Linked DNA regions of Homo sapiens. The protein of the gene in region 2 purifies or fractionates together with the protein of the main gene of each other region. This does not show direct contact. Each region holds a gene or a part of one and is shown on either strand. Other genes may lie near its edges. The genes, in order: COL2A1 and OSCAR.

The links.
Region 1: the proteins of OSCAR (region 2) and COL2A1 purify together in Homo sapiens (affinity purification with mass spectrometry; one large-scale study listed by BioGRID and IntAct). This does not show direct contact.

Annotation. Positions count from the first base shown.
Region 1 is NC_000012.12:47,994,290-47,997,976, forward strand, and holds part of COL2A1 (collagen alpha-1(II) chain isoform 1 precursor), read right to left. Parts: intron 3,636-3,687; coding exon 3,582-3,635; intron 3,419-3,581; coding exon 3,317-3,418; intron 2,337-3,316; coding exon 2,259-2,336; intron 1,631-2,258; coding exon 1,586-1,630; intron 1,475-1,585; coding exon 1,421-1,474; intron 1,020-1,420; coding exon 966-1,019; intron 189-965; coding exon 135-188; intron 1-134. UniProt on the Homo sapiens protein: Type II collagen is specific for cartilaginous tissues. It is essential for the normal embryonic development of the skeleton, for linear growth and for the ability of cartilage to resist compressive forces.
Region 2 is NC_000019.10:54,093,961-54,098,021, forward strand, and holds the end of OSCAR (osteoclast-associated immunoglobulin-like receptor isoform 4 precursor), read right to left. Parts: intron 3,205-4,061; coding exon 2,902-3,204; intron 2,194-2,901; coding exon 1,912-2,193; coding exon of another isoform or gene 1,718-1,911; exon of another isoform or gene 1,398-1,717; coding exon 1,261-1,397; 3' UTR 708-1,260; downstream 1-707. UniProt on the Homo sapiens protein: Regulator of osteoclastogenesis which plays an important bone-specific function in osteoclast differentiation.

The DNA.
Region 1 (3,687 bases), on a different chromosome or scaffold from region 2:
TGGTCGTGATAAATATAGGGGCTACTGGCGTTTCATCTCAGAAGTGACCTCATTGAACTGGATGCACTGTGTTTAAGGCCACAGGGAGGGAGACGCTAGGAAAGATGCCTGAGGCTGGGAACGGTGGCGTTTACCTGAGGACCAGGCGGACCCCTTTCACCAGCTTTTCCAGGTTTTCCAGCTTCACCCTGAAGGGAGAGAGAGAGATATCCCAGCTTCCTCAGAGACGCAGTAGCATAGTGGGGGCACCCCAGAGGGCTTCCCTCCTTCCAGCCCTCCATGCCTTTGCCTACCGGCTCACTCATCTCCCTCACCTCCTTCAGACTCCACGTGCCTGGATGCCTTTCATGGGTCACCATTTATTCTTTTGGACACATGCATAGCCCATGGGCAAGCTCCTCTGTCCTCACCAGCCTCCAACTTCCCCTGAGAGGCTTTTTCTCTCCTCTCCTAGGTTCTGCTGACTGTATGTGCTCTCTCTAACCTCAAGAGACTTTTACTGTCTAATGCAATTCATAAAAATAGCACAAGAGTGCCAATTCTTGTCTCTTCATTTCGTTTGCATCCTTTGTAGACATCCTGACTCAGGCTGTGCTTTTTCTAACTCATTTACAATTAAGATAATGCTGGGTTGTTGAACGCTTCTTTCTTTGTTTTTCCTTCTCTACATCTTTCTGCCTTGTATTTTTTCTCTCCCTTCTCTCATTTCTCAATTTCCCTTCCTGGGGCTAATGATGTTTTAATTATTTGTCTTCCCCTTGGATCCAAAGCGGTCCCCAGGGAACTTGCCAGCACAGTCACAGTGGCCATATAGATAGGAGATGGCGTCAGGGTTTGGGACTGCCCAGTCTTGCTCCTCAAGATACCTCCACCCTGGGTGCCTCCCTGTCACTCCCCAAGCACACACCCTCTCCAGGCCCTTTCAAAGGAGGCAGCTCCTCATTTGTCTACTCGTGTATACTCACATCATCACCAGGCTTTCCAGGGGGACCAGGAGGACCACGGGGACCCATGGGACCCTACAAACAAAGGAAGATAGTTTAAGAGATGGTTATAGTGGGAAGACACCTAAGCAATGGACAAAACTTTGACATTGTAGTTTTGGAAGCCAGTTCTTCTATGAAGAAGAAAGATGGGAAGGTCAGAGCAAAGGTGCAGAGATCATAGTGGGACGCAGCAGATAGCACAGGCTGGGGTGACCCGGAAAGGGGGCTGTTAGGACAGAGTCCCTGGTGGTCCTTGCCACATTGGGCTGTCTGTCAGAGTTCCTCCACAGCTAGGAAGTGACATCCGAATTTCCTTGGGGCCACCGACTGTGGGAAAGAGCTGGGCAGAGCCTGGGAGGGACAGCAGCTGCGGTCCTAGTGGTCTATCATTAGAGGCTCCCCCAGAGAAGGGACAGGGCCGTGCTGGTACTCACAGAGACACCAGGTTCACCAGGTTCACCAGGATTGCCTTGAAATCCTTGAGGCCCCTAAAAAGTAAAATGAGGATACCAGGTCAATCCCTATAAACTGCTAAAACATCATAGTGCTTGGGAATCATCTGCGACACGATGGAGGCAAAAAGAATTGCAGATACTTACAGGAGCACCTGCAGGGCCTGGAGGTCCTCGAGGTCCCATGGGGCCCTGCATCGGAACAGAAAATGAGGGGTTTACTACACATGCTTCCTCAGTGGCCTCCAGTGTGCCATCTTCTCCCAGCCAACAGCCCGGGCAAAGGACAAGAAGTTACTCTGTGGGCAAGGGGCCTAGAGTGGCTGCTCCCTCTCATTTCCCACTCCCCACGCAACACTCTATTTTTATTTATAGGCACCATTTGGACAGAAAAGCTGGCCTTGCTTTCTCCTGGACAGCAGCCATGTTTACTAAAGGCTGAGTTTCATTTAGCATGTGCCAAGTCAGAGCTGCGGGCTGAGATTTCCTGCTGGAAGTCTGTGGATGCTGGAGAACAGTAGCTGCTGTCTGCATTCTTCAGTTCTCATTCCAAGAGCAATAGCAACTGGTCTTCTAACAGATCAGCCTATATGCATCTCCCCATCTTCATTCTTCTTAGTCACTCCAGCGCATCATTAAAAGTGGCATCCATTGCCATTAAAAACCAAATGCTTTGGGCTAGCTGAATGGGAGGTTACATAACTACGGAGGAGAGCCACTCTAAGCAATTATCTGTAAAGCAGAGGTTGTCAGACTCTCTGGCTCTGCTAAGGGCCACCTCCTGCCATTTTGGCTGCAAAGAACTAGTGTCTTTTCTTACCATTGGTCCTTGCATTACTCCCAACTGGGCGCCACCAGCCTTTTCATCAAATCCTCCAGCCATCTGGGCAGCAAAGTTCTGCAAAGAAACCCAACAACGTTAGGAGGTTGAAAGGCACTAGGTCTTCCCTACTTGGCTAGGTAAGCTCTATATGGATACAAAGAACTCTACTGAGATAAACTCTGATTGTTGGAGACTAACCTATCATTGATCAGAATTACCACTGATGCCTGGAAAGTAATTTTGGGAATGGATTATTAGATGACAGTGGCAAAATCATTTCACTGGAAGGGAAAGTGTTATTTGAGGAAGTATCAGTTCCTTGCATTTCATTTTATAAAATTATTTTTATGCTCTAAAATATGACAGATGTTATTTAACGTATATGGAGAAACATAACCAAACCTTCTAAGGGTGTTCTTTATTCTTTAAGACTTTAGTGCCCAGCAAAAGACTAAAATCAACAGTCTTGGAATATTTCAGCAAGAGATGTAGTAGGCATCTGTGATCCCATTTGAGTTTAAGAATTTAAAATACAGCAAACATCAAAATAGCAAACCTGCAAAAACTAGGCAATCATATAATTTGTTGATTGGTTTGATTCCAGAATTGACTTTAGCCACACACCTTCACTCAGTGGAGCTCTTTCATGAGAGTGAATAGTTGCTTGGAATGTACTTGGCAAGAACCAAGGATAAATGTCTTCCAAGGACAGTGGTCACTCGTCTTCCAGGGAAATACAAGTGCCCAGTCATCCTTCCTCCTATCCCTTACACCCACCCCCCAGCATCAACTACGTGGTACAGATGCCAGGAAGCCAGGTAACTGAGGACTTTCTTTATAGAATCCCAGTTAGTGAAAAAAGCCAGCCCTTAGCACCACAGTCTCATGCCTAATATGTGACTCTTCTAAATTACAGGCCTGAGGGCAAAGCCCATGGACAGGCTATGTACACACTGCTGGCAGCCCTGGGAGCCAGCCAGGTAAGTGCAAGCAGCAATTTAAAAGCCACATTTCTGGAGGGACAGCCTGAAGGAATGGGAAGTAAGGATACTTACTCCACCAAGACCAGGGGGACCAGGGGGGCCGGGAGGACCAGGGGGGCCAGGATTTCCAGGGGTCCCAGGTTCTCCATCTCTGCCACGAGGTCCAGGGGCACCCTTGGCATAAAGAGAAAAAGGCATCAATGGGAAGCAGTGTTTCTCCAAGAGCCATCTGTCCCTTGGCTGCTCTTTAAGAGGTGACCAGGCCCTTAAACACATGGTGGGGCCTTGGGGGACCTGGGAAGTCCACCAGGGTCAAGCAGCATTGCTTTTTACTCACTTTTTCACCTTTGTCACCACGATCCCCTCTGGGTCCTTGTTCCCCTGCAGGTCCCTGAAGGTGAAGAACATGGTAAGATGACAGCAAGGCCAGGAGCCTGCAGATC
Region 2 (4,061 bases):
GAAACCCCGTCTCTACTAAAAATACAAACATTAGCCGGACATGGTGGTACGCACCTGTAATCCCAGCTATTCGGGAGGCCGAGGCAGGTGGATCACTTGAGGTCAGGAGTTCGAGACCACCCTGGCCAATTTGGCAAAACTCCATCTCTACTAAAAATACAAAAATTAGCTGGGCGTGATGGCGCACACCTGTAATCCCAGCTACTCAGGAGACTGAGGCACGAGAATCACTTGAACCCGGGAGGCGGATGTTGCAGTGAACCGAGATCACGCCACTGCACTCCAGCCTGGGTGGAGTGAGATCTTCTCTCAAAAAAAAGAAAGAAAGAAAGAAAGAAAAAGTCGTGCTTGATTATGCTTGATGGCAAAAAGGTGAGACCTTCCTTTCGGCACTGAGTCTGGTAGAAATCGGTGTTACAGGGTAGCTAACATTTATTGAACACTTACTACGGGCCAGTTACTGCTTTAAATGTTTTATGTGTATTACCCACTGACTCCTACAACAATCCTATGAAGTGGGTTTTATCAGTGCATCCATTTTACCGTCAAGGCAAGAGAGAGTTGGGGAAGGGCGCTTTCTGAATGCTGCTACCGTGTCCAGAGTTGGTTCCTTCCTGTGGGTTTGTGGTCTCGCTGACTTTAAGAATGGAGCCAGGGACCTTCGTGGTGAGTGTTACAGCGCTTAAAGATGGCACGGACCTAAAGAGTTAGCAGCAGCAAGATTTATTGTGTAGAGCAAGAGAACAAAGCTCCCACAACGTGGAAGCAGACTCTGGTGGGGTGCCGCGCTCGCCAGCTTTTATTCCCTTATTGTCCCCGCCCGTGTCCTGCTGATTGGTCCATTTTACAGAGCGCTGATTGGTCCATCTTACAGAGTGCTGATTGGTCCATTTTACAATCCTCTTGTAAGACAGAAAAGTTCTCCAGGTCCCCATTCAACCCAGGAAGTCCAGCTGGCTTCACGTCTCACTACTACCTTTCTGTAGCTGCTACTACTACAGTGAGTAGACGGCAGTGCTGGGATTCGAACCCTCTGTCTTCTGGCTTGGAAGTCTTAACCACTAATCGCGTCTTCCTTTCAGCTACTCCTTGGGAAAGGCCTGGAAAGAAGCTACAGCACAGGGCACAGCGGGGTCTAAGGACCGTTCCGCGGAGCTCAGCCAGCAGGACTGTGGGGCTGCAGGAAAGGACAGTCCAGCCCAGGGTCCCAGCTTCTCCGCCACTCAGGTTGGAAGTCTCGGGCTGCAGTGCTCCTGGGGCTCAGGGGCGGATACCAGCAGGAGCGCGGTTCTGACTGCGCCAGTCAAAAGTGACCAGCGCGCCCAGGGAGATGAGGACCAGCCCGGCCAGCCCCAGGCGGACTAGGTTCCCCCGGGTGTAGTCGGAGGAGCCAGAGTCTGCGGGCGGAGCCGGGAGAGAGGGGCCATCAGCTCCCGGACCCCAAAGTCTGGGCCCTGAACTCCAGGTTTCCAGCCCCTGGGGTGGACTTAGGGACCTGACTCTACAGTCTCAAAGTTGAGGGGGAGTCGATGGAGGCTTCAACTCCTGGGTCCAGGAAGAAGGGGCTGGGGCCTGGACTGCTGGATCAGGAAGGAGGGGCTGGGGGCCTGGAGTCCTGGGTCCAGGAAGGAGGGGCTGGGGGCCTGGAGTCCTGGGTCTGAGGGAGGAGGTACTGGGGCCCGGGAATCCTGGGTCTGAGGGAGGAGGAGCTGGAGGACTAGACTCCTGGATCTGAGGGAGGAGGGGCTGGGTCCCAGGAATCCTGGGTCTGAGGGAGGAGGGGCTGCAGGACTAGACCCCTGGGTCTGAAGGAGGAGAGGCTGGGGGCCTGGGCTCCTGGGTCTGAGGGCGGAGGTCCTGGGGCCTGCATTCCTGGGGCGGAGGAGGCGGGCCGGGCCTCAGGGCCCTCACCTTCCCAGCTGATGACCAGCACCTCGCTGCGCTGCGACAGCACGTAGGGCGCGGAGGGCGTGTGATAGTAGCAGCTGTAGGTGCCGGGGGCGCGGGCGCCCAGCAGCGTGAAGTCGGCCCAGGGCTGCGCGGAGTGGCGGTACTGCAGCGGGGCCGCCACGCCCTCGCGGTACAGCACGAAGCTCATGTTCCGCAGGCGGCCCGCGCAGCGCAGGCTCACGTTGGCGCCAGGACCCACCACCGGCCCGGGCAGCGCCACCAGCGACGGCCGCGGCAGCTCCTCTGCAGAGACGGGGTGAGAGTCCGGGGCCGCGTGAGCGTCTTCCGCTCGCTCGCTCGCTCTGTTTCTCCTTCTCCTCTGTCTCTCGCTTTCTCTGTGCCTCTCTCTCTCTTTCTGCCTCTCTTTCTCTCTGCCTGTCTCTCTCTCTGTCTGCCTCTCTCTCTGCCTCCCTCTCTCTCTGCCTCCCTCTCTCTGCCTCCCTCTCTCTCTGCCTCCCTCTCTCTCTGCCTCCCTCTCTCTCTGCCTCCCTCTCTCTCTGCCTCCCTCTCTCTCTGCCTCCCTCTCTCTCTGCCTGCCTCTCTCTCTGCCTGCCTCTCTCTCTGCCTCCCTCTCTCTGCCTCCCTCTCTCTCTGCCTCCCTCTCTCTCTGCCTCCCTCTCTCTCTGCCTCCCTCTCTCTCTGCCTCCCTCTCTCTCTGCCTGCCTCTCTCTCTGCCTCCCTCTCTCTCTGCCTCCCTCTCTCTCTGCCTCCCTCTCTCTCTGCCTCCCTTTCTCCTTCTGCCTCTTTCTCTCTCTCTCCCCCCGCACTGTACCTCTCTCTCTCTCTGCTCCCCTGTCTCTCTCTCTCCCCCTAGTGTCTCTGTATCTGTCTTTTCTTGTGTCTGTGAATCTGTTTGCCCGCCTCGCTCTGTCTCTCTTTCCCTATATCTCTCTGTCCCTCCCCCAACTCCCTTGTTCCACCCACTTCTCCTCCCCGACCCCAGGACCTCACCTGTCACCAGCAGCTCCAGGACATCGCTGGGCTGGGACCAGACACCCGGCCCCCAGTCTGGCCTTCGGTAGCAGCAGCGGTAACTTCCCCCTTGGGCTGGAGTCACCTCCTCCAGAAAGAATTCTGCCAGCTCGGAGGACACATCCCGGAAGAGAAGGGGAGCGATCTCTCCAGGCTTGAAAAGTCCAAATCTCCAAGCGGGTTGGGGTGCCCGGCATCTCAAGGTCACGTTGACCCCAGGGGTCACAACTGTAGCCGGCTGAGCTCCCAGCCATGGCTTAGGGTGGTATGAAGCTGGGGGGACTGAATAAACGGGGCTGCCTGGGTCCTCGGGCCTCCTGGGAGCCCCAGAAGATGAAAGGGAAGTTGGGGAAGGAGGAAAATCACCTTGGACAATTACTGCCCCTTTCTTAGCCTCAGTTTCCTGTTTGTAAAATCAGGGAGAGACTGGACTACAATCAAGCCTTGTTAAAACCAGGTGCAAATCAGAGGGGCAGGACAGAAACTTCTGAGCTTTACTCCACAGTTTGTAAACACAGTTTCAAAAGGTCAGGTCCCAGAACTCTGTAATTTTATTATTATTATTATTTTTAAGTAATGAGATGGGAGGGGGCGGTCTCCCTATGTTGAGCAGGTTGGTCTTAAACTACTGGCCTCAAGCAATCCTCCCACCTCGGCCTCCCAAAGTGCTAAGTTTACAAGCTTGTGCCACCACACCCAGACTTTTTTTTTTTTTTTTTTTTTTTTTTTTGAGGCAGGGTCTTGCTCTGTTGCTCAGGCAGGAGTGCAGTGGCATGTTCTCAACTCACTGCAGCCTCAATCTCTTGGGCTCAAACAGTCCTCCACCTCAGCCTCCTGAGTACCTGGGACCACAGGCACATGCCACTACACCAGGCTAATTTTTTTTTTTTTAATTTTTAGTAGAGACGAGCATTCGCTATATTGCCCAGGCTACTCTTGAACTCTTGGGCTCAAGCAATCCTCCCACCTCGGCCTCCCAAAGTGCTGGGATTACAGGTGTGAGCCACCACGCCCAGCCAGAACTCTAATTTTAAATAGCTTTCCAGAATATTTGCAATATAGTATTTCAAGAGTTGCCAAAACTTGCTATTTGGAAAAGAAAAATGTTGGATCCCTACCTCATACCATTTCCCAAAACA